Linked DNA regions of Homo sapiens: region 1 is linked to region 2. The links come from fine-mapping of genetic effects on gene expression. A gene starts in region 2. The other region holds a variant in brackets. All regions are shown on one strand. Distances are between the middles of the regions. Region 1 overlaps GPX7 (glutathione peroxidase 7). Region 2 holds the start of RAB3B (RAB3B, member RAS oncogene family).

What was found. PIP is the estimated chance that this variant, and not a neighbour inherited with it, causes the effect.
Region 1: its variant is fine-mapped to the expression of RAB3B in sun-exposed skin (GTEx, PIP above 0.99).

Annotation. Positions count from the first base shown.
Region 1 is chr1:52,603,201-52,614,831 of GRCh38, forward strand. GPX7 (glutathione peroxidase 7) reads left to right here. Exons shown (of 3, transcript NM_015696.5): 2 at 3,484-3,745; 3 at 5,062-5,851. The coding sequence ends at 5,225. Among named protein-coding and RNA genes, the nearest start is that of GPX7, 6.6 kb to the left of the region's middle. The variant T/C (reference allele first, on the strand shown) is at 4,089.
Region 2 is chr1:51,981,797-51,998,939 of GRCh38, forward strand. RAB3B (RAB3B, member RAS oncogene family) reads right to left here and starts at 8,904. Exons shown (of 5, transcript NM_002867.4): 1 at 8,756-8,904. It also overlaps the pseudogene RN7SL290P. RefSeq lists a silencer at 8,818-8,927.

The DNA of each region.
Region 1 (11,631 bases), 620 kb after region 2:
GGGGCACACATAAGAGTCATCCAGGCTAATTGCCCCCTCATTACCAAGAGGGAATCTAAGCTCAGAGAAGACTTCGGAGAGGAAGGGTATCTGGGTTGAGTCTTTGAATACGAGTGGATTTTAGCAAGACTAAGAAGCAAACAGCAAGAAGGGGGTGGGGGGGCGCGGGGCCAGGAGTTCCAGCTGTTGTGCTTCAAAGAGTCTAAAGCTGGAGGCTACGAGTGGTGGAAGATGAGGCTGAAACGACTGGCAAGGGAGCAGGCGGGACCTTGAACACTACATTGAGAGGCCTGCATGTCACATTATGTGCAGTGAAGAACTCCCAGAGTGGACCTCTTCAGGATGGACCTGGGGACTGGTGTGAAATGGCTGGGGAGTTGAAATCTAATGAACAGGTGGGCCAGCGTCCAGTTTTGGATGAACCACACAAAAATAGATGTCAACATTTTTCTCCTGGGAGCAACACCATCTTTAGTGAAGACCAGTACTCTATAAGCCTTGAAATTTTCGATTATGCTGGGAGTCTTGGGGACAGTAATCCCTGCTTGATTGTCCCCCAGAGTGTCGTGAGTTTCAAATCAGATGAAGGCGTGGATGCACTTAGTAAACTGTAGAGTGCTTTGCACCTGTGTTTGGTGGATCCCAGCAGGAACTTCATTTAGAACTCTGGGCAAAGAACCAAGAACAGGGCCCGCTCCAATTCAGGCCTCCTGTTCTCTCTAGGGCAGCTCACCAGAGAGCCCCAGGTTTAGCGTCTGACCAGCTCTGCTACTTATTAATTCGTTGTTCATTATTGAACACCTACTGTATACTAACTAGATACTAGGTCAGGCCCTGGGGATACAGTGGTGAACAAAACAGATACATTTCCACTAAATGGAGCTTACATGGGGTAAGGAGAAGAAAGACAATAAACAAGGAACTGAGAAATGCACGAGGTAATTCCTAGTAGTAGTAAGTGCTAAGACAAAAATAGAACAAGGTCACACAGCTAGTAAGACAGTAAGAATTTGAACCCAGACAGTCCAGCTCCAGAGTCTATGCTCTTAGTTGCCAAGTTCAGCAGTAAACCAGGGAACAGGGAGTCCAGAAAAGCTGTAATTGGTGCTGAGTTAACCCAGGCTAGGCTTGCTGCTTGGGCAATATGCTCATTCCTTCACCTGCAAACATTTACTGGCTCCTACTACATGTCTGACACTGGGTCCAGCTCTGATGACATAGTCATGAGCAAGATTGACATGGTTGATGCCCTCAGGCTAATTGGGACCATAGTCATTTAGACCAGTATGGATGAATGGGTGACCACTTGGGAATGTGTGGGGTTATGTGTAGTGTGTGCCTTTGTGAATGGTTTACTTCTTCTGTGTACAAATCTGAGTCTGTGTCTGTGCTTGTATATGTACATATGTAAATTAACTGTGTGTACTTGGGTGTGTCTGTCTGTGTTTTGGTTTCTAAGGACCAAGCTTTTTGGTTTCAGGGATGGAACTAGAAGCCAGATTTTCCCCCTTCCAAAAGAGCGGGCAGACATGCAAGTTGTGAGTTAAAAATAAGCAAGCTTTGGCCGGACGCAGTGGCTCACGCCTGTAATCCCAGCACTTCAGGAGGCTGAGGCGGGTGGATCACAAGGTGAGGAGTTCGAGGCTAGCCTGGCCAACATGGTGAAACTCCGTCTGTACTTAAAAAATACAAAAATTAGCTGGGCATGGTGGCGTGTGCCTGTAATCCCAGCTACTCAGGAGGCTGAGGCAGGAGAATTGCTTGAACCCGGGAGGTGGAGGTTGCAGTGAGCCAAGATCGCGCCACTGCACTCCAGCCTTGGTAACAGAGCAAGACTCTGTCTTTAAAAAAAAAAAAAAAAAAAAAAAAGCTTTAATGTTCTCATTGCCCAGGGATCCAGCAGGGGGAAAAAAAGGAAGAACCCTAACTGAGGAAGGGAGTTAACAGTCCCAGTTTCTCACCATTCCAGGCACAGTATGGTGTATGCTGACCTCAAATTGAGGAGGTTGTTCTAATAGCCAGTGGCCCCAGGCATGGGTCCTTTCTCACCTGGTGGAGGTAGGGTACAGGAGGTACAGCTCAGTGGTTCAATCATCTAGCCCAGTAGTTCTCAACTAGGAGTGATTATTCCCTTTAGGGCACAATTGGCAATGTCTGGAGACATTGTTGATTGTCAAGACTGGGCATCTAGTGGGTAGAGGCCAGGGATGCTGCCAAACATCTGATAATAAATAAACAGGACATCCCCCCGACAACAAAGAATTATCTGACCCAAATGTCAATTATGGAGGATAGGGCTAGGCTGCCTAGGCACCGGCTAGGGTTTTAAATCCATTAATAATATATACCTAGAAGCTAAAAACATAGCATTTGAGCCAAAATTCTAATCAAAGTCTTATAATCAAGTTCCATTAGCCAGCTTTGTATTTATTGCCTAAAGGCTTTAATAAATTTAAGGATTAGTCTAATGATAAAAGAAAGTGGTAGGCTGGGCATGGTGGTTCATGACTGTAATCCTAGCACTTTGAGAGGCTTAGCTGGTAGGATTGCCTGAGGCTAAGAGTTTTTGAGTCCAGCCTGGACAACATGGCGAGAACTGTCTCTACCAAAAGTAAAAATTAAAAAATTAGCCAGGTGTGATGGCACGTGCCTGTAGTCCTAGCTATTTGAGAGGCTGAGGTGGGAGGATCACTTCAGCTCAGAAGTTTGAGACTGCAAACGGTTGGGGGGATGTCCTGTTATGATTATGCCATTGCTCCAGCAGCAACAACAACAAAAGTGGTGTTAGTTCTCTGGAGAGGAGGGGGACAAAAAGGTGATTGCCCTGGAGTTATGAGGGTTCTTTTCTCAAGAAAACCTGTGTCTATGTTCCCATGCAGGCGTTTGTGTTTGTGTGCACACTTACTCATTCATCTGAAACTTACTGAGACTTTTTCATATGCCAGGCCCAGAGATGAAGTGGACATAGCTCCTGCCCTCAGTAGGTTCACATTCTAGAAGGGAGACTGACACAGTGCAGAGTGGCGAGTGCTAGCTGACTGAGCCAAAAATTGAGCCCAGGTCTCCCTTTGTACCCCCTCTTATCAGTTCTCAGTATGTGCTCACCAGTATGTGTGCCCCAGTCTGTGGATGTGCTGTGTGTGTGGGCATGTGTGGTGTTTGCTAACATGTTTGTATCGTGGTGCATGTGCATACCTATTTATGTATGTTGTATACTTATGTTCACAGATGTTCATGTATGTGTGCACACATCTGTAAGCTCCTGAATGTTTGATTTCATATGTGCCTGTCTGTGTGCATGTGTTTGTGTATGTGTGAGAGCACTGGACACACATTTACATATGTGTACACAGTGTTCTTGTATGTGTGAGGCAGTATTAACTGTTGAGGGAGTCACATATGTGGATGTGTCAGGGCATGTACAGGTTCATGCCTCTTCACTGGCTTGTCTGGGCTTTGTTTTGTTTTGTTTCTGTCATACAGGTGTCCCTGGTGGTGAATGTGGCCAGCGAGTGCGGCTTCACAGACCAGCACTACCGAGCCCTGCAGCAGCTGCAGCGAGACCTGGGCCCCCACCACTTTAACGTGCTCGCCTTCCCCTGCAACCAGTTTGGCCAACAGGAGCCTGACAGCAACAAGGAGATTGAGAGCTTTGCCCGCCGCACCTACAGTGTCTCATTCCCCATGTTTAGCAAGATTGCAGTCACCGGTACTGGTGCCCATCCTGCCTTCAAGTACCTGGCCCGTAAGTCCTGGTCTCTTCATCCCCTCACACCTCCCTTAGCTGGCTGAGGCCATGGCTCCCTGGGCAGCAGAAGCCACTGGCTGGTTGGGTGACCTGGGGCCCCTTCCCCTTCCTGATCATCTCAGGTGGACTGATGCTTTGTTCCAGCACTAATCTTTGAGGAGAGTGGAGGCAGGTAGAAGCTGAGGGGTATTCCTGCCTAAGAATATCTCCATACCTGCTGCCTCTCACTTGTCCCTCAGAAGTCACTCTTTTGGACTTTTCTGGGATCCTGTTTTCACATTCAGGGGCTCCTAGAAGGAGACATTTAAGTCAGTGTGAACTAGATGAGTTTATGGACATA[T/C]GATGGAGAAACCAAGGCATAGACAGGGGAGGCCACCTGCTTGGAGAAAGCTGACCAAGATAGTAGACAGGCATCTTCACCCTGAGTCAGTGGCGGAGTCTGTAGGCCATGGAGGGAGACCTTCTAAGCTAAAATACCAGATCTTAGTATTTGAGAACAAGATCCCTTCTCCAGCTGCAGAAGCCTCAGAGCCACAGAATGGGCTCATGGGCTAAGCTTGCCATTCTGACCATTTCTTCCCTCAGGCCTTCTCCTCTGGAGGCCCCATTTTTGCCTTTTCTGATTCCGTGCTTCTGGTGGCCTTTGTATCCCTTGCCACCACCCCACCCTGCAACCCATTCACCTGGAGGAGTAAATGAGAAGCAAGAGTGCAGCAAACAAAAGGTCCCTTACTGCGGCAGGTTTGTGTTTTGCTCTGTGGCTCAGTCCTAATGTTGATTTTTTTCTCTGTGTTCTTTTATTAGTTCCTTCCCAGTTCTCACAGTTATAGATCAAACCCGGCCTTGCTTTTAGAAGCACCTGGGGAGCTCTTAAAAATGCACAAGGCTGAGACCTACTGAAGCAGGGCCCAAGAATCTTTATTTTAAGCACTCCCCTGACCCCCAGTGATTCTGATGAAACCAGTCCATGGACTAACATTTGGAAACCATTAAAACTGAACTAGAGAATAGGGTGTAGACTATTCAGTAGTTCGAAGTCATTAATAAAGGAGGATTTGATACCACTTTATCAAGCACGTCACAGAATCCTACAGCAGTCGTTCTCAACCTCGGCCCCACTTTGGAATCTCCCAGGGGGCTTTTGAAAAATGCTGATGCCTGAGCCTCACCCTCAGAGATTCTGGTTGGAGTGGTCTGGGGTGTGGACTGGGCATCAGGATTAGCTGCCACCAGGGAAAGATGGACACTGAGAGTGAAGTCCCAGGAGAGGGTACGCAGGGTAGCACGCTTTGCTCTCCTTCCTTTTTCTCTAGAGACTTCTGGGAAGGAGCCCACCTGGAACTTCTGGAAGTACCTAGTAGCCCCAGATGGAAAGGTGGTAGGGGCTTGGGACCCAACTGTGTCAGTGGAGGAGGTCAGACCCCAGATCACAGCGCTCGTGAGGAAGCTCATCCTACTGAAGCGAGAAGACTTATAACCACCGCGTCTCCTCCTCCACCACCTCATCCCGCCCACCTGTGTGGGGCTGACCAATGCAAACTCAAATGGTGCTTCAAAGGGAGAGACCCACTGACTCTCCTTCCTTTACTCTTATGCCATTGGTCCCATCATTCTTGTGGGGGAAAAATTCTAGTATTTTGATTATTTGAATCTTACAGCAACAAATAGGAACTCCTGGCCAATGAGAGCTCTTGACCAGTGAATCACCAGCCGATACGAACGTCTTGCCAACAAAAATGTGTGGCAAATAGAAGTATATCAAGCAATAATCTCCCACCCAAGGCTTCTGTAAACTGGGACCAATGATTACCTCATAGGGCTGTTGTGAGGATTAGGATGAAATACCTGTGAAAGTGCCTAGGCAGTGCCAGCCAAATAGGAGGCATTCAATGAACATTTTTTGCATATAAACCAAAAAATAACTTGTTATCAATAAAAACTTGCATCCAACATGAATTTCCAGCCGATGATAATCCAGGCCAAAGGTTTAGTTGTTGTTATTTCCTCTGTATTATTTTCTTCATTACAAAAGAAATGCAAGTTCATTGTAACAATCCAAACAATACCTCACGATATAAAATAAAAATGAAAGTATCCTCCTCATTTTCCATAGTCTCCCTCCCTAGAGGTAAACAGTGTTAGCAGTTTGGTACAAAGGCTGCCAGGCCTTTGGTTAAGCCAATCATTATTGCCCAATAAGAACTCAGTGACCGGGCACGGTAGCTCACGCCTGTCATCCCAGCACTTTGGGAGGCCAACGTAGGTGGATCACCTGAGGTCAAGAGTTTGAGACCAGCCTGGCCAACATGGTGAAAACCCATCTCTACTAAAAATACAAAAATTAGGCTGGGCGCGGTGGCTCACGCTTGTAATCCCAGCACTTTGGGAGGCCAAGGCGGGCGGATCACGAGGTCAGGAGATCGAGACCAACCTCGCTAATACGGTGAAACCCCGTCTCTACTAAAAATACAAAAAATTAGCCGGGCGTGGTGGCGGGCGCTTGTAGTCCCAGCTACTCTGGAGGCTGAGGCAGGAGAATGGTGTGAACCCGGGAGGCGGAGCTTGCAGTGAGCAGAGATCGTGCCACTGCACTCCAGCCTGTGCACTCTAGCCTGGGCGACAGAGCAAGACTCCGTCTCAATAATAATAATAATAATAAAAATAAAAAAATAAAAATACAAAAATTAGCCTGGCATGACCGGGCACAGTGGCTCATGCCTGTAATCCCAGCACTTTGGGAGGCTGAGGCGGGTGGATCACCTGAGGTCAGGAGTTTGAGACCAGCCTGGCCAACATGGTGAAACCCCGTCTCTACAAAAATATAAAAATTAGTCGGGCATGATGGCAGGTGCCTGTAATCCCAGCTACTCTGGAGGCTGAGGCAGGAGAATCGCTTGAATCCGGGAGGCAGAGGTTGCTGTGAGCGGAGATAACGCCACTGCATTCTAGCCTGGGCAGCAGAGAGAGACTCTGTCTCAAAAAAAAAAAAAATTCACTGAGTAATCCACTAGCCAAAAGTACACCTCAATAACAAATAGGCAAAGGAGATGAATAGATAGTTCACGGAAGACTATAGATGCGTAATAAGGATACAAAAAGATGTCCAGCCTCATTGAAGTTGGAAAGTTTTTTGTTTGTTTGTTTTGTTTTTGTGATGGAGTCTAGCTCTGTCACCCAGGCTGGAGTGCAGTGGCACAGTCTCGGCTCACTGCAAGCTCTGCCTCCCAAGTTCACGCCATTCTGCCTCAGCCTCCCGAGTAGCTGGGACTACAGGCGCCCACCACCACGCTCAGCTAATTTTTTTTTTTTTGTATTTTTAGTAGAGGCGGGGTTTCATCATGTTAGCCAGGATGGTCTCAATCTCCTGACCCAGTGATCCGCCCGCCTCGGCCTCCCAAAGTGCTGGGATTACAGGCGTGAGCCACTATTCCCGGCCGAAAGATATTTTTTTAATGATAATACCCCTGGTTGGCAGGGATGTGAGGAAATGGGCATTCACATAAACTGTGGTACGATAAACTGGCACAAGTGTTTGGAGGGTGATTTGGCAATATCTTTTAAAACAAAATGCTCATACCTTTTGTTTTTGCTTTTTGTTTTGAGACAGGGTCACACTCTGTTGCCCAGGCTGAAGAAGAGTGGCTCGATCGTAGCTTACTGCATCCTTAGCCTCCTGAGTAACTAGGACTGCAGGCACACGCCACCATGCAACATAGTGGGACCCCACCTCTACAAAAAAATATTAGCTGGCCATGGCAGTGCATGCCTGTAGTCCCAGCTATCAGGAGGCTGAGGTGAGAGAATTGCTAGAGCCTGGGAGGTCAAGGCTGCAGCGAACCGTAACCATGCCACTGCACTCAGCCTGGGTGACAGAGGAGACCTTGCCTCAAATTATAAACTAATATGGTTATTAAAATGAATGAATGAAGTCTCCATATGCTACCATAGAAAGTTGTCCAAAAGTGAAAAAATGATAAGTTGTAAAACAGAATGAACACATTCACATACCCAGAAAAACCAGTATGAACAAGTGTAATGTTTTTATTAAAAATGTACAATGTTGCTGGGTGCATTAGGTGGCTCACGCCTGTAATCCCAGCACTTTGGGAGGCAGAGGTGGGAGGATTGCTTGAGCCCAGGAGTTCAAGACCAGTCTGGGCAACATGGCAAGACCGTGTCTCTGCAAAAAAATTTAAAAATTAGCCAGGCGTGGTCACTCACACCTGTAGTCCCAGCTACTCAGGAGGCTGAGGCAGGAGGATTGTTTGAGCCCAGGAGGTTGAGGCTGCAGTGAGCCGTGTTTGCGCCACTGTACTCCAGCCTGGGCAATGGGAGTGGACCCTGTCCCAAATTTTTAAAAAATTTACAATGTTAAGTGGGAGGGAAAGAGAGAGGGAAAAATATAGACCAAACTCTTAATGGTGGTTGTCTGCGAGGGGCTGAGGTAGGATAACAGGAGTCATTTTCATTAAGTTTCTGTAATGTTTGAATTTTGTATGTCAAATCCATATTTCACCTTTATATAAATGTGGAAAGGTGGCTAAAAATTGGGGTGCAGCCTGGGAAACACAGTGAGACTTCATCTCTACAAAAAATCAAAAAATTAGCCAGGTGTGATGGTGCACACCTATAGTCCCAGCTACTCAGGAGGCTGAGTGAGGAGAGTCACTGGAGCCTGGGAGTTTGAGGCTGCAGTGAGCTATGATCACGCCACTGCACTCCAACCTGAGCAACAGACCAAAATACTATAAAAAAAATGGGGTGATGGGCAGAGTCACTGGTAGATAATTCATTGGCCAATAAGAATTTCAGGTGTACTTTATCTAAGGTCACTCTTCTAGAAGTCTGGAGACTCAGATTCAAGTTCCTGTTGTGCCCCTGACTCACAGCAAATTCTTCCCTCTCTCCTGTCCTCCGTTTTCTCACTGGACAATGAAAGGGTTAAACCGTGCTTAGGATTTTCACAGTCTCCCTTCATGGTGCTTCTCAAAAGCTAACAAAAGTAAAGTGAAGGCTGTCCATGGGGTGACCACAGCCCCTCCTATGGTGGCCTCTCAGCTGCCCTTACACACCCTCCTCTTAGCTGCAGCTCTGCATGTACTTGTGTGCATGCACACACACACAGTGAAGCCCAGCTTGCACACATGTTCACACTGGACATCTGGGAACCACAGTCTCCTGCAGCTACCTTCCTCCCTCCATACCCACTGTCTCCACCACCCGTATGTATGCCTCCCCTCACTGTGCCCACCAAGGCCATCACTTAGTGCCTTATCGTTAAAGCCAATGAATATCTCTCACCTTGTCTTCCTTGACCTCTCAGCTGCATGTGACACTGCAGACTCTGCTCTTCTCCCTGGCACTTGCTCGGTCCTTGGCGTTCCTCTGTCTTCTCTTAGTTTCCCCCATCTCTCTAAGTGTTCCTTCGTTCTCAGTGTCAATGTCTCTCCCTTCTCTATCCACCCCTTCCCTGTTGGTCTTCCATGGGGTTCTAGTCTGATCTAGTTTCTCACCCCATATACCGTTCTGTAGCCAGCTCATTTTTTCCCATGGTTTTGACCACCATCTACACCCTGCTGACACCCAAATCTCTATATCCATGCAGGACTCCCATCCACCTGCCTCCTGGGCATCTCTACAGATACCTCAATTCAACATGGCCAGAACTAAATTCACCCTCATCTTTCCCCAACACATCTGCTCTCCCTTCCATTCTGCCTTGGCAGCCCCTGGAGCTTTCTCTTTCACACACCACTTACTTATCACACTCTATTCCCATCACTTAAGAAACTGCCCTCCCTTCCCTCTCCTGAGCACAGTGCTAGGCCCTTAATAGATGAAATTAAATTATGTCATAAGCCTTTGGAGTACCAACTCCATGCCTGCTCCTGCCTAAGCCCTATCTGGAAACCAAAGATGAGCAAGCCCATTTCCTCAGAAATTTAGAGTCCGTCTGAGGACCTTACGCTCCCAATTAGCCCTGTGTTTCTGTGGACTTTATCAGCTTCTGCTGTTCCCAACCCCCCTCTAATACATGCAAGAGTCCCCTAGGAAAAAGTTACTTTAAATCCTTATCAACAGTCACCTTAGTCATTGGTTAACCAGTATCTGCTAAGATCTTGGTTTTAAATTAATCCCTTGGTTATCAAATAACACTTGAGTAGTTAATATTTGATTATCTACTAACACCACCTTAGTTATCTTCTAACACCTTATTTACAAGCCAAATACTTTATTTATTCAGTTATATCTTAGGATTTAGTAGTTTAAAAGTATTTGCTATGTCTTAGTTATTAATCAAATTTTCTTTTTTTTTTTTTTTTTTTTTAACAAGGTCTTACTCTCTCACCCAGGCTGGAGTGCAGTGGTGCAATCACAGTTCACTGCAGCCTCAACCTCCTAGGCTCAGGCAATCCTCCCACCTCAGCCTCCTGAGTAGCTGGGACCACAGATGCTCACCACCATGTCTGGCTAATTTTTGTATTTTTTGTAGAGATGGGTTTTTGCCATGTTGCCTAAGCTGGTCTTGAACTCCTGGGCTCAAGTGATCTGCTCTCCTTGGCCTCCTAAAGTGCTAGGATTACAGGTGTGAGCCACCACGCCCAGCCTTAATCAATATTTTAGTTACCTGATCCCTTAGCTCTCTGCTGAGTTTAGAGTAGATTAGCAAGTCAGAAACCATCAGTTAGGAGTTTGGGGAAGAGGTCATTTCTGAATATGGAAAAATACAGGCCTTTGTCTTTTACTGAGCTCTCCTCTTACCCCCAAACGATTCTCTTTCAACATCAACTGGCCCCAGGTCCTGAGAGAAAAGGAGGTCCCATCCTAATTGCTTATTTGTTTCTCTGAGCCAGGCTGTAGGGGACTTCCTGGAATGTTGTGATTGGCAGGGACTTTCATTCATCAACAAATGTTTCTTGAGCACTGCATATCTGTCAAGTTCTCCCTAAGTTCTAACTGTACATCAGCAAACAAAATGGGCATGTTCCCAGCTGCTATGGCTCTTAGAGAACAGTGGAAAAGATAAACATTAAACAAATAGTTATTCTGATTATTATGTGATTACAATTATGATAAGCACAGGGATTATGATAAGTACAGGGAGCTGTGAGTGTGTATAAAAGTGGCACTTGACCTATTGTGGGATTCAGAGACTTCCTTGAGGAATGACATTAAAGCTGAAAGCTGAAATTTTAATAAGAGTTAGGGAAAAAATGGTAAGGAAGTCCTAAGCAGATAGAGTGGCTTGGGCAAAAGCCTAAAGGAAGGAAAAGGCTGATATGATAGAGCTAGTGCTGCCTGGAGCCACATGATAAGGAGAAGGACCAGAGAAGTAGGCAGATGCCAGATCATGCAGGGCCTTGTGGAATCTAAGTGAGAAATGATGTGACCTGGCCTAGCATGAAGCGTCTGTCTTCTATTGGTATAAGAAGATCTTCCTTAGAGTCCCAAATCTGACGGCCAGAAATAAACCCTGGGGCAGAGGCAGTCATTGAACCACTGGTAGAAGAAGGCTGCAGCTGAATGCAGTGGCTCACGCCTGTAATTCCAACACTTTGGAAGGCTGAGGAGGGTGGATTACCTGAGTTCAGGAGTTCGAGACCAGCCTGACCAACATGGCAAAACCCTGTCTCTACTAAAAATACAAATATTAACCGGGGGCAGTGGCTTGTGCCTGTAGTCCCAGCTACTGGGGAGGCTGAGGCAGGAAAATCGCTTTAACCTGGGAGGCGGAGGTTGCAGTGAGCCCAGATTTCACCACTGCACTCCAGCCTGGGCAAGAGTGAGGCTCCATCTCAAAAAAAAAAAAAAAAAGGAGTAGGCTGTTCTGCTTTGGGGGCTGCCTGGAGGACAGGTCACCACGGAGACACCTGTGAAAAGCA
Region 2 (17,143 bases):
CATTACTCACATATTTGTGTTGATGCTGGTGTAAACAAACCTACTGCATTGCCAGTTGTATAAAAGTATAGCACATATGATTATGTGCTATACATAATACTTGATATTGATAATAAATGACTATGTTACTGGCTTCTGTATTTACTTACTACACTTTTTATTGTTATTTTAGAGTGTACTTTTTCTATTTATATTTAATATTTTTTAAAAAGTTAACAGTAAAACAGCCTCAGGCAGGTCCTTCAGGAGGTATTCCAGAAGAAGATATTGCCATAAGAGATGACAGCTCCATGCCTATTATTGCCCCTGAAGACCTTCCAGTGGGACAAGACATGGAAATGGAAGGCAGTGATATTGATGCTCCTGGACCCTGTGTAGGCCTAAGCTCAGGTGTGTGTATTTGTGTCTTCCTTTTTAACAAAATAATTTTAAACATAAATTTAAAAACTAAGGAAGAAAAGAAAGAAAAGGCCAGGTTCAGTGGCTCATACCTATAATCCCAACACTTTGGGAGGCCAAGGTGGGAGGATCGCTCAAGCCAAGGAGTTTGAGGCTGCAGTGACCCATGATTGCACCACTGCATTCCAATCCAGGTGACACACTGAGCCTTCATCTCAAAAAAGGCCATACGGTGTATTTGTGCTTTAAGTTAAGTGTTGTTATAAAAGAGTCTATGGCTGGGCATGGTGGCTCAGACCTGTAACCCCAGACTTTGGGAGGCCGAGGCAGGCAGATCACTTAAGGTCAGGAGTTCAAGACCAGCCTAGCCAACATGGTGAAACCTCATCTCTACTAAAAATACAAAAATTAGCCAGGCGTGGTGGTGCGCACCTGTAATCCCAGCTACTCAGGAGGCTGAGGCACAAGAATTGCTTGAACTCGGGAGGTGGAGGTTGCAGTGAGCAGAGATCCACTGCACTCCAGCCTGGGTGACAGAGCAAGACTCAATCTCAAAAAAATAATAATAATAATAATAAATAAAAAATAAAAGAGTCTAAGAAGTTTTAAAAATTTTTTAAGTTTATAAGGTTTAAAAGTTATAGTAAGCCAAAGTTAATTTATTATTGGAGAAACATATTTTTAAATAAATTTAGTGTAGCCTAAGTGTAGAGTGTTTATAAAGTCTCCTATAGTGTATGGTAATGTCCTAGGCCTTCACATTCACTCACCACTCACTCACTGACTCCCCCAGAGCAACTGCCGGCCCTGCAAGCTCCATTCATGGTTAAGTGTCTTATATAGGTGTACCATTTTTTATCTCTTATACCATATTATGCCTGGGTGCAGTGGCTCACACCTGTAATCCCAGCACTTTGGGAGGCCAAGGTGGGTGGATCACTTGAGGTCAGGAGATAGAGACCAGCCTGGCCAACATGATGAAACTCCATCCCTATTAAAATACAAAAAATTAGCCAGGCATGGTGGCAGATACCTGTAATCCCAGCTACTCGGGAGGCTGAGGTTGCAGTGAGCTGAGATTGCACCACTGCATTCCAGCTTGGGTGATAGAGCCAGACTTGGTCTCAAAAAAAAAAACCATCATATTTTTACTGTACCTTTTCTATGTTTAGATGTGTTTAGCTACACAAATACTTACCACTGTGTTACAATTGCCTGCTACATTCAATACAGTAACATGCTGTACAGGTTTGCAGCCTAGGAGCAATAGGCTATCTATTCCATATAGACTATGTGTATAGTAAGCTATACCATATACCATATAGGTTTGTGTAAGTATACTCTATGATGTTCATACAACTATGAAATCGGCTAATGACACATCCCTCAGAACATATCCTTGTCATTAGCAATGCAAGACTGTACTTAAATACTACAAAAATTTAGTAGTACCAAAAGTACTACAAAAATATGAGATTTTGAGGCCAGGTGCCGTGGCTCAGGCCCATAATCCCAGGACTTTGTGAGGCCGAGGCAGGCGGATCATTTGAGCTCAGGAGTTTAAGATCAGCCTGGCCAACATGGTGAAATCCAGTCTCTACTAAAAATATAAAAATTAGCCAGGTGTGGTGGCGCACACCTGTAATTCCAGCTAGTCAGGAGGCTGAAGCACAAAAATTGCTTGAACCCAGGAGGCGGAGGCTGCAGTGAGTCAAGATTGCACAACTACACTCCAGTCTGGGTGACAGAGCAAGACACTGTCTCAAAAAAAAAGAAAAGAAAGTAAGGGCTGGGCGCGGTGGCTCATGCCTGTAATCCCAGCACTTTGGGAGGCTGAGGCGGGTGAATCACGAGGTCAGGAGTTCGAGACCAGTCTGGCCAACATGGTGAAACCCCATCTCTACTAAAAATACAAAAAATTCGCTGGGCGTGGTGGTGGCTGCCTGTAATCCCAGCTACTCTGGAGGCTGAGGCAGGAGAATCACTTGAACCTGGCAGGCGGAGGTTACAGTGAGCGGAGATTGTGCCACTGCACTCCAGCCCAGGCAACAGTGGAGACTCTCTAATTAAAAAAAAAAAAAAAAAAAAAAAAAAAAAAAAAAGCATGAACGAGACTTTGAAAACTCTAAAAAAACATCATTTCAGTTGACTACATTATATTCCATCCTATAGATGTGTCATAAGACCAATTCTTTTTTTTTTTTTTTTTTTTTGAGACAGAGTCTTGCTCTGTCACCCTGGCTGGAGTGCAATGGCACAATCTTGGCTCACTGCAACCTCCAACTCCTGGGTTCAAGCGATTCTCCTGCCTCAGCCTCCCAAGTAGCTGGGACTACAGGTGCTCACCATCACACCGGCTAATTTTTGTATTTTTAATAGAGATGGGGTTTCACCATGTTGGCCCAGCCAGATCAATTATTTAATGTTGTCACTCTCTTTAGGAAGTTGTTTTTAAGTTGTTTTTCTACTCTTAATTATTATACATGAAACTGCAGTGAACATTTCTTTACATAAATTTTTGTACATTTTCCTAATTACTTCCTTGAGAGAGATTCCTTGAAGTGGAATTGCTGGTCAAAGAGTCACTACTAAAACATAAATGTGATCTTTACCACAATTTCATATCCTTTATCTTCTTTTATCTCTAAATAAACCTGGGAAATAAAGCTGGAAAGACGTGGATTATTATTTCCATTTGATCAAGAAGGAAACTGAAAATGAGAAATTAAAAGGATTTGCCCAAATCTCATAGCTAACAGCCGAGACTAGACTTAGTACCCTGCAGTGTTATGAAAAAGTTTAAAATCAATGCTCTACCCTCAGATGAATTCTTAGGTAAGTCATATTGCCTCTCTAAGCCACAGCACTTTTACCTTAAAATAGAGAAAATACCACCTACTTCACAGAGCTTGGTACAAATAGAAAGAGTAGTACTATACGTAAACAATCTGACACAGTTTCTCGGCCCATGGAGGTACTGAATACATATTATTTCACTGGCCCCTTTAATTCACTTCTGCAGGCAAATCTTGTTCAACTGCCCTCTCCCTGATTGTGGCTCCATTATTTGGGCCTGTTTTACAATTAACTGTTTGCTCTCTCTTCTGGATTCAAGGGGGCTTTATCCATCCTTACATCTGGTCAACGCTAGACCTACAGTAAATCCTTAGAGGGTGTTATGTCTTTCAAGAAACACATATAGAGCATTTTTCAAGTGCCAGACTATCAGTGTAAATGTCAGATTACTGGTTTTCACTTTTCTGATGTAGCCCAGCTTCACACTCTTAAACTGCTAGAATTAGAGGGGACTTTGGAGTAGCAGCTTTTTATTGTAACAAAAAGCCTGGCTACTGGGCCCAGCTTTCCCAGTAACTCAGTGTGTAAACTTGGCCTAGTTACTTAAATTCTATGCCTCAGTGTCCTCATCTGACAATAATACTTACTTCACGAGGTGCTGTGAATTTTAAATAAGAGAACGTATATAAGTATGTTTCATACACTGTGCTGAGAAAAATACATGTAGCCTCGTGTAGAATCAGTGAGAAATTTGCCTGCCTTTATTAGCTGTGACTGCCACAGATAGGAGACTAGGAAGTGATGGCAAGAGTAAAAAATTGTTTCAGTTCCTGATCTACCTCCGTTTATCTTACAGGTAAAAAAAAAAAAAAAAAATTGAGGCTCTGCAAAGACAAGTGATTTGTCCAAGCTCACACAGCAAGTCAGTTGGAGGGTCATGAATGGAACTTCTGTTACCTAATGGCTTCCAGGTTTGACGGGATTAAGGAAAACGAAAACCACAACAATTTTAGGGTGAATAAAGAAGCATCCTGGCTGGGCATGGTGGCTCATGCCTGTAATCCCAACACTTTGGGATGCCAAAATGGGAAAATCACTTGAGGCCAGGAGTTCAAAACCAGCCTGGGAAACATAGTGAGATTCCATTTCTACGAATTTTTTTTTTTTTTTTTTTTTTGAGGCAGAGTCTCACTCTGTCGCCCAGGCTGGAGGGCAGTGGCGCGATCTCAGCTCACTGCAAGCTCCGCCTCCCGGGTTCACGCCATTCTCCTGCCTCAGCCTCCCGAGTAGCTGGGACTACAGACACCCGCCACCATACCCGGCTAATTTTTTGTATTTTTACTAGAGATGGGGTTTCACCGTGTTAGCCAGGATGGTCTCGGTCTCCTGACCTTGTGATCCGCCTGCCTCGGCCTCCCAAAGTGCTGGGATTACAGGCGTGAGCCACCGCGCCCAGCCAAAAAAAGTTTAAATTAGTCGGATGTGGTGGTGTGCACCTGTAGTCCTCGGTACTTGGGAGGCTGAGGCTGGAAAATCACTTGAGTCCAGAGGTTCGAGGTTAGAGTGAGCTATGATTGCACCACTGTATCCCAACCTGGGTGACAGAGTGAGACCCTATCTCTAAAAATAAAAATTAAAAAAAAGAAGCATACCCAACATCCTGAGTGTCCTGCTACCGTACTGTACTTGCCATACCACACTGTTAACATCTGCTTATGCACACACAGCATGGCTTTCCCAGTAGGTGGTGTGAGAACGGGGAGAGGCAGAGAGCTGAGTTCAGTTGGAAGGCTCATTCAGATGGAAGCCCCCAAGGGGATCTTCTTAGGAGGGGGCGGCCAGGGGCTACTCAGACATTTGGAAGACAGGCAAAAAGCATCCCAGCAGGCAGCTGCCTGAGGCAGATCTAAGCAGACAGGTCATGCACAGTGGTGCATGCAGAATTGCATTTGTAAGATAAGCATCAATCAAATCTTTCCTCTATTTTGTGACAGTCACATAAAATGATAGAGCTATCTCCGTGACAAGCAATACAGATGAAGGCCCAGGGACCATCTGGGAAGTCGTCCCTGTCCCAGGCTGGGGGAAAGAAATGACTCCTCAAAGGGTGGCTGTGAAAAACAACCCTTTCAGTCTGATAGGCGGCAGAAATAAGCACCTAAGGAAGAAGCCAACTTCAGCCAGGAAAGAGCGGGGAGGAGGAGGAGAGAGCCCTAAAATCCAGCGAGAAGAGATCAGCTCAATAAATGGAGTGAAGAAGTGAATGAAGGAACTTACCTTTTGTTGCAAAGAACATGAGACTGAGTCCAAGAGACCTGGCATTTGAAAGATAAGCCCTGGCTCTTTCAGTGATCCTGTAAACTTAGGCAAATCACACCCCTGGCCTCAGTTTCCTTATCTATAAAAGGAGCTCATAAAATGGCTTCCTGGCAAAACTGTTGCAAGAATTAAAACCTGTATATGGGAGGGTGTTTTATTAACCCCTTATTTTGTTTGTTTGTTTGTCTCTGTGCTTCATGGTTTCTTCTAGCAAGTCATCCTGTGTAGTGGAAATAGTTTGGAGCTCCAAATCAAACAAACTAGATTCAGTTTCCAGGTCTATCATTTATTACCTATGAGACCTTGGCAAGAAATGTTACATGATTAAGACAGTTTCCTCATTCATAAAACAAGTGTTGTTGGGAAAATTATAGGTAATGTGGGTTATACATCTAGAATAGTACAGTAATTTCTTGGTATAGGCAAGGGATTGGCTCCAGGACCCCCATATATACCGAAATCCACGCCTACTCAAGAACCACAGTTGGCCCAGTGGAACCCACCTAGACTAAAAGTTGGTCCTCTGAATATACAGACTTCACCTCCCTTCACTACTGTATTTTCTTCTCTTTTTCTTCTTTTTTAAGAGATGGGTGTCACTCTGTTTCCCAGGATGGAGTACAGTGGCCTGATCATAACTCACTGTAGCTTCAGGTTCCTGGGCTCAAGCGATCCTCCTACCTCAGCCTCCCAAATAGCTGGGATTCCAGGTTTGAGCCACTGCGCTTGACCCACCATGGTATTTTTTTTAATCAGTGTTTGGTTGAAAAAAAAAATTCAGGTATAAGTGAACCTACACAGTTCAAACCCATGCTGTTCAAAGGTCAACTGTATATGCAATATAGCAGGGGCTCAATAATGTAATTCCCTGTCTTCCTACTTGGAGCATTTCAGTGAGAATAAGAAGGGAGTTGGGCAAATGTGGACCTCATCCTCCTTTAAGCCATACTCTACTTTTCTAATTCAATCTGTCTTTAGACCATTCCCCACTGCTGACCCATCACCACCTTCTCATTGTTTTCCCAGGTCTCCTAGAGCCACAGAAACAATATCACAATAGCTACCATTTATTGAGCACCTACTAAATGTCTAGCATTCTACAAGATGCTTTCAAAGCATTCCATCTTGCACCAACAGATGCTTGATATTCATTTCCTTCCTCCTCCAGATTGGAAAGAGATAGCCATGGGTGTGTCCACTGACAAAACAGGAACACCTGCAGAATAACATCAGTGGCCTCTCTCTTTGTACATTGTTTTACAGTTTACAAAGTTCTTTTCACCCACATTATCCTATTTGATTCTCACAACAATTCTTGGGAATGGATGAAGAAATTGAGGCAGGAGCACCAATTATTCATTCAATCAACATTCACCAAGCACCTACTATGCACCAGGACCTGTGCTATACTTTAGGGAGATGGAGAGAAACCCTAGGAGCTTCAAGCTTAGAGGGGAAATCTATTTAAATATTTTGTATAGGTTACTGATGCCTCCCTTCATGTCATAATCTTTAAGAAACTGAAGATCTATTTCTTGGACTGGAGATGCTTTTAGATTTTTGCCTTTTCCCATACGGTTTCCTCTGATAGGAACACACTTTCCTCCACTGCTAGCTAAATCCTTCATGACCAGGAAGGCTTCCCCAACCCACCCACCTCCCCCAAAATGCTTCTTCTCTGGCTCCCACAGGGCACCAGGGCTTTCCACTTCTATAGATAGGGCCTTTCACGGCTTCCATTGTCTTCCTCTGTTTATAGGCACAGAACAGGTGGACACCCACCTGTGCGCGCGCACACACACACACACACACACACACACACATCCTCTCCTTTTACTGTCTCCCACCCCTTTCCATCTGGATTCCAGGAAGCCGGGGGAAGAGGGCCCATCTTGTTTTGTGTGTGTGTGTGTGTGTGTGTGTGTGTGTGTGTGTGTGTGTGTGTGTTTTGAGGGCCCATCTTTCTCCCACCTCCTCCACATCTCTCTTAGCTTCCAAAGGCTGCTGCCCTGCCCTCCCCAAAGTTGCTTCCATGCTTGGACTACAGAACAGAGTTGGATGACTTTTTCTGTCCACGATTCTCTTATTTTCTGTGATCCCCGGTGCCCGTGTAACAAGGTCCAGTGCCTGGGTCCCCTCCTTGGACTCCTGAGTGGCCGAGACACCGCTAGTGCGTGGACACCACTCCAGCCCCCATTACCTTTCCACCCTTACACCACGACCCACACCTGGCCTCCTCCCCAGGCTGACCCAGCGCCCCACCACCCTATCTATACACTCCAAGTTCTCCCACGATTCCTCCACTTGCAGCCGCCAGACCCTACTCTATTCCAGAGCCTCCTCTCCACTCCTGACCAGAATGTAGGCCCCTGTGTCCATTTCCAAGGCCACTTCCCTGTGTCTCCACCGGCTCCCTGCCCCCTTCCTCTGCAGCAGGGTAGACCCAACCTGGCCTCTCACCCTTCCATTCTCCCAAGCTTCCCGCCCCCAAGCCCCACCCCTCGTCTTCCATCTACAGTTACCCCCACGCCGGTCCCCAGCCGGGCTCAACCTCCGACCCCAGCTATCCATACCCACATCCCCCATAAATGACCCTCTTTCGACCAGACACTGCCCTGCTGCCTTTCTCCTTCCCAGCTATCCATACCCACATCCCCACCCCCGACCCTCTCCCAACCAGACACTCCCCAGCTGCCCAGCGCCCCTTGCCCTCGGCACCTCAGTCCCCTCCAGCTCCAAACGACCCCCGCCCAGCCAGTCCCCTCCCCTCAGCTCCTCACCTCCATGCCTCCCCCCGCACCCCCGCTCTAGCTCCCCTCAGTCCGCTCCCTTCACCGCCCCCTTCGCTGCCCCTCGGCTGCCCGGTACCACCTTTCCGCACAGCCCCACTCCGCCCTCCTCGCAGCTCCCCCGCCCCCCACGCCCCCGTTTCCCCCAGCGATCCCTCACTGCCCTCCAGTTGCCCCCCATCTCTCCTCCCAGCCCCAGCGCCGTCTTTCTTGCTCCCCTCCCGCCCTTGGAGCTCCCCCGGCTGCCCCCAACGTCTGGGAGACCCCCTCGGCGCCCCCTCCCTAGGTGAGCCCCACCTCTGCCGCCGCGGAGCCCCCTCCCTCGCTCCTCCCCCGGCTTCCTTCCGCTGCCCCGCGCTCCTTCTCGGCGCCCGCTCTCGGTGCCCAGCGCCCCGCGCCGGGGATCGGTCCCTGATCCTCCGCGGGCGGGCTGCCGGGGCCGCGCCCCTTACCGCGGACTCCGAGTGCGGGACGACGGGTTCGCTCCCGGACGGTCGGCGGGACGGCAGGACCTGGCGTCGGGAGGGCGCGGAGGGGGCCGGGGCGGGGCGCTGCGGGATGGTCTGGTCCGGTCAGGTCCTCACAGTGGCGCCTGAGGGCTGAGGCTCCCGCTCCAGCACTGCTCCGCTCCGGCCGCATCCAGGCCCCGCCCAAGGGCGGAGTCTGTGTTCGCCCCGCCCCGGCCCTCAACTCCTAGCAGGTGTAATCCGAGGTGACTCAGGACCTCCAGGTCCCCCATGTCTGGGTGACTCTCGTGATTTATCTTAATTGTCATGCCTCGTTCCATTGACTGAACTTACTAGGGTAATTAGAGAGCTTTGATGATAATGTAGCTGATGATGGGTAGCAGTTTTGCCATTTCCAAACTGCTTTCTGGTCCGGTCCGTTCTATGGCTCCGTCTTCACAAAAGCCCAGAGAGGGAGGCTGACTACAAGCGGAAACCAAGCCAGAAACCTGGACGCTGTCCTCTACCCTATCTGTGTTTCCTTCACACCCCACATCCCACCGCCTTAACATATCCCTGCCCTTCCTCTGTGTCTCCATTGCCCTTGTTCTGACTCCAGCATCATCACTTCTTGCTTGGACTAATGCAACAGCTTCCTAATTCCTGCCTTCACTCTCCAATTCACCCTATAAAACCAGGACGTGGTGTCAGCATGGCCATTTCCACCCTTGTACAAAAATTCTTTCTCCTGTGGTCTCCAGTCATACCACCCTCCACCCCTCCTCATCACTGACACCCAATTGTTCCTTATGCATTAAAGATTGCAGCCCCTGGCCCATGGTCATCCTAACTAGCCCCTGTTCTGCCATACTCCTGGTGACTTCGGTAGCTGTGAGACTTCCTGGTCCCATTCATTCTGAGTCAGATACCAAAATCATTTTGACACAAGCCCGAGCAACCCTTTAAAAAATGTCACCATGTTACCATCAACCTTGTTTAAGAAAACTCTCGGCCAGGCACAGTGGCTGACGCCTGTAATCCCAGCACTTTGGAAGGCCAAAGTGGGCAGATCACTTGAGGTCAGGAGTTCGAGACCAACCTGGCCAACATGGTGAAACCCTGTCTCTACTAAAAATACAAAAATTAGCCGGGCATGGTGGTGCATGCCTGTAGTCCCAGCTACTTGGGAGGCTGAGGCAGAATTGCTTGCACCCAGGAGGCAGAGGTTGCAGTGAGCCGAGATCACTGCACTCCAGCAGTGCACTCCAGCCTGGGCAACAAAGCCAGACTCCATCAAAAACCAAACAAACAAACAAACAAAAACCTCTCAATGGTTTCCCATTACCAGGAGGCTGTCAACAGGAGTAGAAAAATGTTCTTGCCTGGCCTGGCCCTAGGAAGTCCCACTTCCACTAGAGGAGGCAGATAGAGGAGGCAATAAATACCCCACCCTCAAATCCTGATATGGACTTCCAGTCTTCCTGAGGTCACAGGAGCCAGCTGAAGGCTTGCTCTAGAATCATTGTCTTTCCCCACACTTCTCCCCCATCTCAGATCTTAGAGGTCTGAGTCAAATACCAAAACCATTTTCCCCCCAAGTTCCATTATGACCCTGTCTACAGTGTACATCTCCAGCCTAGGAACCACCCAAGCTGACAGCTCCTCTGCTTGTCTGGCCTCTGCCTCAGACGCTTACTCTTCTGAGCTTCTTGCCCAGCCCTTTCACTCACACTGCCCATCACACTGGCAGCTCTTTCCTCTGTGCCTTCTAGAATCCTGTTCTTTTGTCAACAAACTCTGCTATACCCTCTGCTTCTTCAGAGTACTCAGGTGACTTCTTTGCCTGAGCCTCCTCCAGGTACTGCCTCCTTTGCTGCCCTCTGCTAGAAGGCTTCTCATTTTTCCACTCCCCATATACTATAAAACTAGGATGTGGGGATGGCATGGCCATTTCCACCCTTGTGCAAAAATTCTTTCTTCTGTGCTCTCCAGCCATACCCCCCTCAACCCCTCCTCATCACTGACCCCCCAATTGCTCCTTATGCATTACAGATTGCAGCCCCTGGCTCATGGTCATCCTCACTAGCCCCTGTCCTGCCATCCTCCTGGTGACTTCAGTAGCTATGAGATTTCCTGGTCCCTCAGTCCTTGTCCTCCACATCACCTTGGCCACCAGCTCCCATGGTCACTCTTGAGCTCTTAATCACCCACTGCTGGTACCTCTGTAATAGCAAAATCAAACATGCTACGCTGAACTGCTCCCTCACTCTCTTTCTCTCACAAGGCCCTACTTCCCTCATTTCAAAATAGACGAGATGATAATGATTATTCTTTCTTCCTAGGAATAATGAGACAGCATATAGAGCCATCCTTTTAAAGTTGTGAGACAATATGAGAACAGATGGTATTGCTTTTATGTAGCCTCAGTTCTTCTGGTTGCTTTCTCCTTCTCCCTCCTCTGAAAGGCGGTATAGTAAATTAGAAAGGGCACACACAGGCTTGGGGCCAGGCAGACCTGGTCTTCAGTCCTTGCTTGCTGTGTGATCTTATGCCAATTACCTAATTTCTCTCGCACGCACACCCCTTCCTTATTTGTAGAAAGAGCAATAATAAGAGCTGCTTCTCAGAGTTGTTGGGAAGATCAAATGAGAACACAAGCTACTGGAGAGGACTTGATAGAGTGGTAGGCATACAGTAAGCATTCAACAAATAGGAAACACTGTGCTTCGTATAACAGAAAAAAAAAAGTGCTATTTTTAAACCACAACTGCCTTCCAGGAATGACAGATCCCAATGCACAGAAAGTCCTTTTGTCCTGCTTGGGGCCTCAATTGATGAGAGTGAATACGTAACTTTGGGAGAAGAAATTGCTCTCTATGTTTAAAAAGGGAGTAGGGGTAGGTGGGGCATGATGGCCCACGTCTGCAATCCCAGCACTTTGGGACCACCTGAGGCCAGGAGTTCGAGACCAGCCTGGCCAACATGGTAAAACTCTGTCTCCACTAAAAATACAAAAATTAGCCGGGCGTGGTGGTGGGCGCCTGTACTCCCACCTACTCGGGAGGCTGAGGCGGGAGAATCACTTGAACCTGGGAGGCGGAGGTTGCAGTGAGCCGAGATTGTGCTACTGCACTCCAGCATGGGCAACAGAGTGAGACTCCATCTAAACAAAATTAGGGGTAGCAGGAGGCAGAGGTTGCGATGAGCCGAGATTGCGCCGTTGCACTCCAGCCTGGGAAACAAGAGTGAAACTCCATCTCAAAAAAAAAAAAAAAAAAAAGGTGGGGGTGGGAGGGTTGGGGGAAGGCAAATTTGGAATTCACTTGACAAAATGGGAGGGCAAGTTAATAGAGATCGGAGGGGAAAAGGAAAAAGATGAGTAAGAAAATCAATGTAAGGATAGGTGCTACATAGGTAAAGAGTCAGAAGAAACTCTCCCATGGTAGTTGACAAGAGTGTTTCAGCAGTGGGATACCTAAAATGGGATAAGTTGTTTGTTACACTAGGACGTGACCATCCTATGTGACTCTCAAGACTTCAGGAAGGGCTATTACACCCAGGAACGCTTTTTGAGAGAGGGGAATTGTGAGAGTACATGAGTAGGGAGTTGAGCAATGTGCTTTGTTAGGTCTCAGTTGAAAAAGGAGACTGGAAGCAGAGGTAACTGTGAGACCACAAGCCCTTGTGGAACTTGCAAAAACTTGTGTAGGACTTTGCACTTACATGAGTTGGGAAATGTGAATATTGAGGTTCAAGCCCATTGCATTTGGATCTTGAAGAGGCAGAGAGGCAGCCAGACAGCGGCTCACACCTGTAATCCCAGCACTTTGGGAGGCCAAGGTCGGCAGATCACCTGAGGTGAGGAGTTCAAGACCAGCCTGGCCAACATTGTGAAACCCCATCTCTACTAAAAATACAAAAAAATTAGCCAGCATGGTGGCAGGTGACTGTAATCCCAGCTACTTGGGAGGCTGAGGCAGGAGAATCGCTTGAACCCGGGAGGCGGAGGTTGCAGTGAACCAAGATCGCACCACTGCACTCTTGCCTGGGTGACAGAGTCAGACTTGGTCTCAAATAAAAAAAAAAAAAAGCCGGGGGCGGTGGCTCATGCCTGTAATCCCAGCACTTTGGGAGGCCGAGGCGGGCGGATCACGAAGTCAGGAGATCAAGACCATCCTGGCTAACGTGGTGAAACCCTGTCTCTACTAAAAACACAAAAAATTAGCCGGGCGTCGTGGTGGGCGCCTTTAGTCCCAGGTACTCGGGAGGCTGAGGCAGGAGAATGGCGTGAACCCTGGAGGCGGAGCTTGCAGTGAGTTGAGATCGCGCCACTGCACTCCAGCCTCGGCGACAGAGCGAGACTCCATCTCAAAAAAAAAAAAAAAAAAAAAGGAGGCAGAGAGGCCACATCTGACATTTGGGTTGCATCATTTATGCCCTCATAAGCTACCTTCTTATTGACTAAGGTAACCACCTGAGGGAAGAACAACACAAATCAAATTATACTGGACTGTCTTCACTTCCAGATCCAAATGCCCAAGGAAGAATGGGAAGGAAAACAAAATTCTTTTTTTTTTTTTTTTGAGATAGAGTTTTGCTCTTGTTGCCCAGGCTGGAGTGCAATGGCGTGATCTTGGCTCACTGCAACCTACGCCTCCCGGGTTCAAATGATTTGGCTGCCTCAGCCTCCTGAGTTGCTGGGATTACAGGCATGTACCACCACGCCCAGCTAATTTTGTATTTTTAGTAGAGACGGGGTTTCTCCATGTTGGTCAGGCTGGTCTCAAACTCCTGACCTCAGGTGATCTGCCCCGCCTCAGCCTCCCAAAGTGCTGGAATTACAGGCATGAGCCACTGAACCTGGCCCCTGAATGAAGACAAAATTCTACCTTTTGTCTTGGCTCAGATTAGTTAACAATTATATTCATTGAATCTTTAAATTACACTAAGATTATTCACATCTTTTATCTCATTTAATCCTCAATATAATTATGCAAGTTATAGATTATCATCCCTTTTTTATAGACAAGGAAAGAGAATTGAGAAAGTTTAAGTGACTTGCCCAAGGTCATACAACTGGTAAGTGGCAGAGCCAGATAGCAGGTCTGTCTGACTCCAAGGACAGGGCGTTTTCTATTAGACTCTAAAATTATATTTTGATTGCCCAGTGAACATCATTGTGATTAAGAGTCCTGCAAGGGCAAGATGGCACCTGCCTGTAGTCCCAGCTACTCGGGAGGCTGAGGCAGGTGGATGATTTCAGCTCAGGAGTTCTGGGCTGTTATGTGTGTTATGCAGAACAGGTGTTCTCACTAAGTTCAGCATCAATATGGTGAATTCCCAGGAGTGTGGGGCTACCAGGTTGCCCAAGGAGGAGTGAACCAGCCAAGGTCAGAAACAGCAGGCCAGAACTTCTGTGCTGATCAGTAGTGGGATCATGCCTGTGAATAACCACTGTACTCCAGCTGGGGCAACATGGAGAGACCCTGTCTCTATATTTAAAAAATAAATAAATAGGCCAGGCACGGTAGCTCATGCCTGTAATCCCAGCACTTTGGGAGGCCGAGGCGGGCAGATCACCTGAGGTCAGGAGTTCGAGACCAGCCTGGCCAACATAGTGAAACCCCATCTCTACTAAAAATACAAAAAATTAGCTGGGCATGGTAGTGCACGCCTGTAGTCCCAGCTACTCGGGAGGCTGAAGCAAGAGAATCATTTGAACCTGGGAGGCAGAGATTGCAGTGAGCCAAGAGCATGCCACTGCATACCAGCCTGGGTGACAGAGAGAGACCCTGTCTCAAAAATAAATAAATAAATAAATAATAGAGTCCTACAACAAAATTTCCTTTTGTAGTTGCCAGAGTAATCAGCCTTCTCCAACTCCTAGTTTTATAAGAAGTATAGAATTGATGCTCTTTTGTTGTTGTTATTAGGGTTGGGGGGGGGGGCGGTCTTCCTATATTGCCCAGTCTGATCTTGAACTCCTGGTCTCAAGCAATCCTCCCACCTCAGCCTTCCAAGAAGCTAAGATCGCAGGTGTCAGCTTTTTATTGAATGATAATCAGTGGCTTAGAAAATGGCACAAGCGGATGTCGTTTGGAATGTTCAAATTTTCACAAGGTGAATATTTACCCTAGTGTGAGTCCCTCATGGCCAGCTTAGGAACTCAGATGTGTTGACAGGTCAGACATTTCCATCCAACCCATTCAATAGATTGCTCCATGCAATAGGGTAGCTGAAGCAGGTACCTGTGAAACAGCTGAGAAATGTAGGATTCAATGAGAGGAGTGATGGAAGATCGGGGAGGAAAGAGAAGAAGAGGCCAGATGGTCCAAGGCCTTGTACATCATATTAGGGATTTGGGAGCTTACCTTGCAAACAAAAAGATTTTAAGCAATGGAGTAACATGGTTACATATTCTTGTGAGAAAGATAGCTCTGCCTGTGGCAGGGGAATACAACAGATTGGATGGGAAGGATAGGGAGCAGAGAGATAGGAGACAGAGAAAACAATAGAGATTGCTGTAATAATCTAGATAAGAGATGACTAGGACCTGAGCTAATGTCATAGCAATGGGAAAGGTAGAAAGCAGAGGGATTTGATATATATTTAGGAGGTAAAGTTCCCTGGACTTGGTGACAGATTAAATGTGAGATATAAAGAAAAGGGCACCAGCCTAAACAACCAGGTAGATAATAAAACCATTTACTGAAACAGGAAGCAAAGAAGTTGTTTCTGTTATCTATTGCTGCATTTAAAAAACACTCCCAAAAGTTTAGTGGCTTAAAACAGCAATAATTCACTATTTCTCATAATTCTGTGAGTGGCTAACTGCCTCCTTTGCTGGTTTCACCTGCGATCATTCAGGAGCTGCATTCAGTTGGAAGGGCTGCTGGCCTGGAAGGTCTAAGATGTCCTTATTCATAAGTCTGGCAATCAGTGCCAGCTGAGGACTGGCACCCCAGTTTTTCTGCATGTGACCTCTCATCCACTAGTAGGCTAGACCAGCTTACATGGTGGTCTCAAGGCAGCATTCCAAGAGTATAAAGGCAGAAGACACAATCTCTAAAGACCAAGCCTTAGAAATCGCACGACCTCACATATGCTGCATTATATTAACCAAATCAAGTCACAAGCCCAGTCCAGATTTAAGGGGTGGAAGAAATAAATTCCACTTTTGATTGGGAAGAAGAGCGAAGTCACATCACAAAAAGGCACAATATAAGGAACAAGGAGTCTATTGCCTTTAACCAAACTACTACAGGAGTAGAAACAAATGTGGGTAATGAGAGAAAATGATGAGTATCTCAAATACCACCTCCTGCACAAATCATTCCTTCCTTCTCTGTGCTTCAGTTTCTTCATTTGTAAAACGAATGAATGTGCAAGTCCATTCCTCTCACCAGCTGCTGTTTACGAGGTGAAAGTGGTTCAAATCTGCAACAAGGACACTGCTCCATCGCCAGGGCACACACTGTCAGCAGGGGTGGAATCTGAGACACACACAGGGGAAACATTCAACATGTGAATGGTCAGAACCCCGGTACCACCCACCACCCCTCCCTCCCCACCCCAACCCTGCCAATGCTTCACCAAGCCCAGCCCATTCTACTTCCCAGGAACTCTTCATTCCATAGCCACAGTCTCCTCACTATCCTGCTCCTGCAATAGCCTCCAATCTGCCGTTAGTCCGCACTCCACACTGCAACATAGGACGCTTCCTAAAGCCAGCTTGAAACCTCCCATTGCCCTACTCAGAAGCTTATCTGTTTAATAAGCCTAATGGCCCCTGGTGATCTGGTCTCATCTACCCTCCAGCCTCACTGCTGGTCACACCCCCTTCACACCCTGAGCTCCCACGACATTAAACTACTTGCAGTTCTTTGAATGTGGCCTGCTCCATAACATCTTTGTGAATTTGCATCTGTTTTTTTCTCTCTACCTAGAATGCCATTCAGTCATTTATTCAATAAATCGCTGGTTCACTCACCCAGCTAGCAAATATCTCCCGAACACCTGCTGTGCAGAGACGAATAACATATGGTCCCTGACCCAAGGAACTCAGTGTCTGGTGCAGGACAGTAGACTATAAGATCCACTAATCTGTACTCCACAAGAGGAAAGGCCATACTAGTACCCAACACAGGGCCTCCTAAACCATTCTTAGAAGAGCTCAGGGATAAGTATATAAATATTAAATACTTATACTGATGCTGAATAAATAAGTACATAAGTATTAACAAAGGATTTCTTCTCATATCTGCCATCTCATTTAACTTTCACAATGAACCTGTGAAGTTGGGACTGATTCATGCCATCTTAGATGTGAGCAAGTAGTAACTGGCCCATGGTTTCTTAGCTACTGAAAGCAAGGAAAACCAGGACTCAAATTAG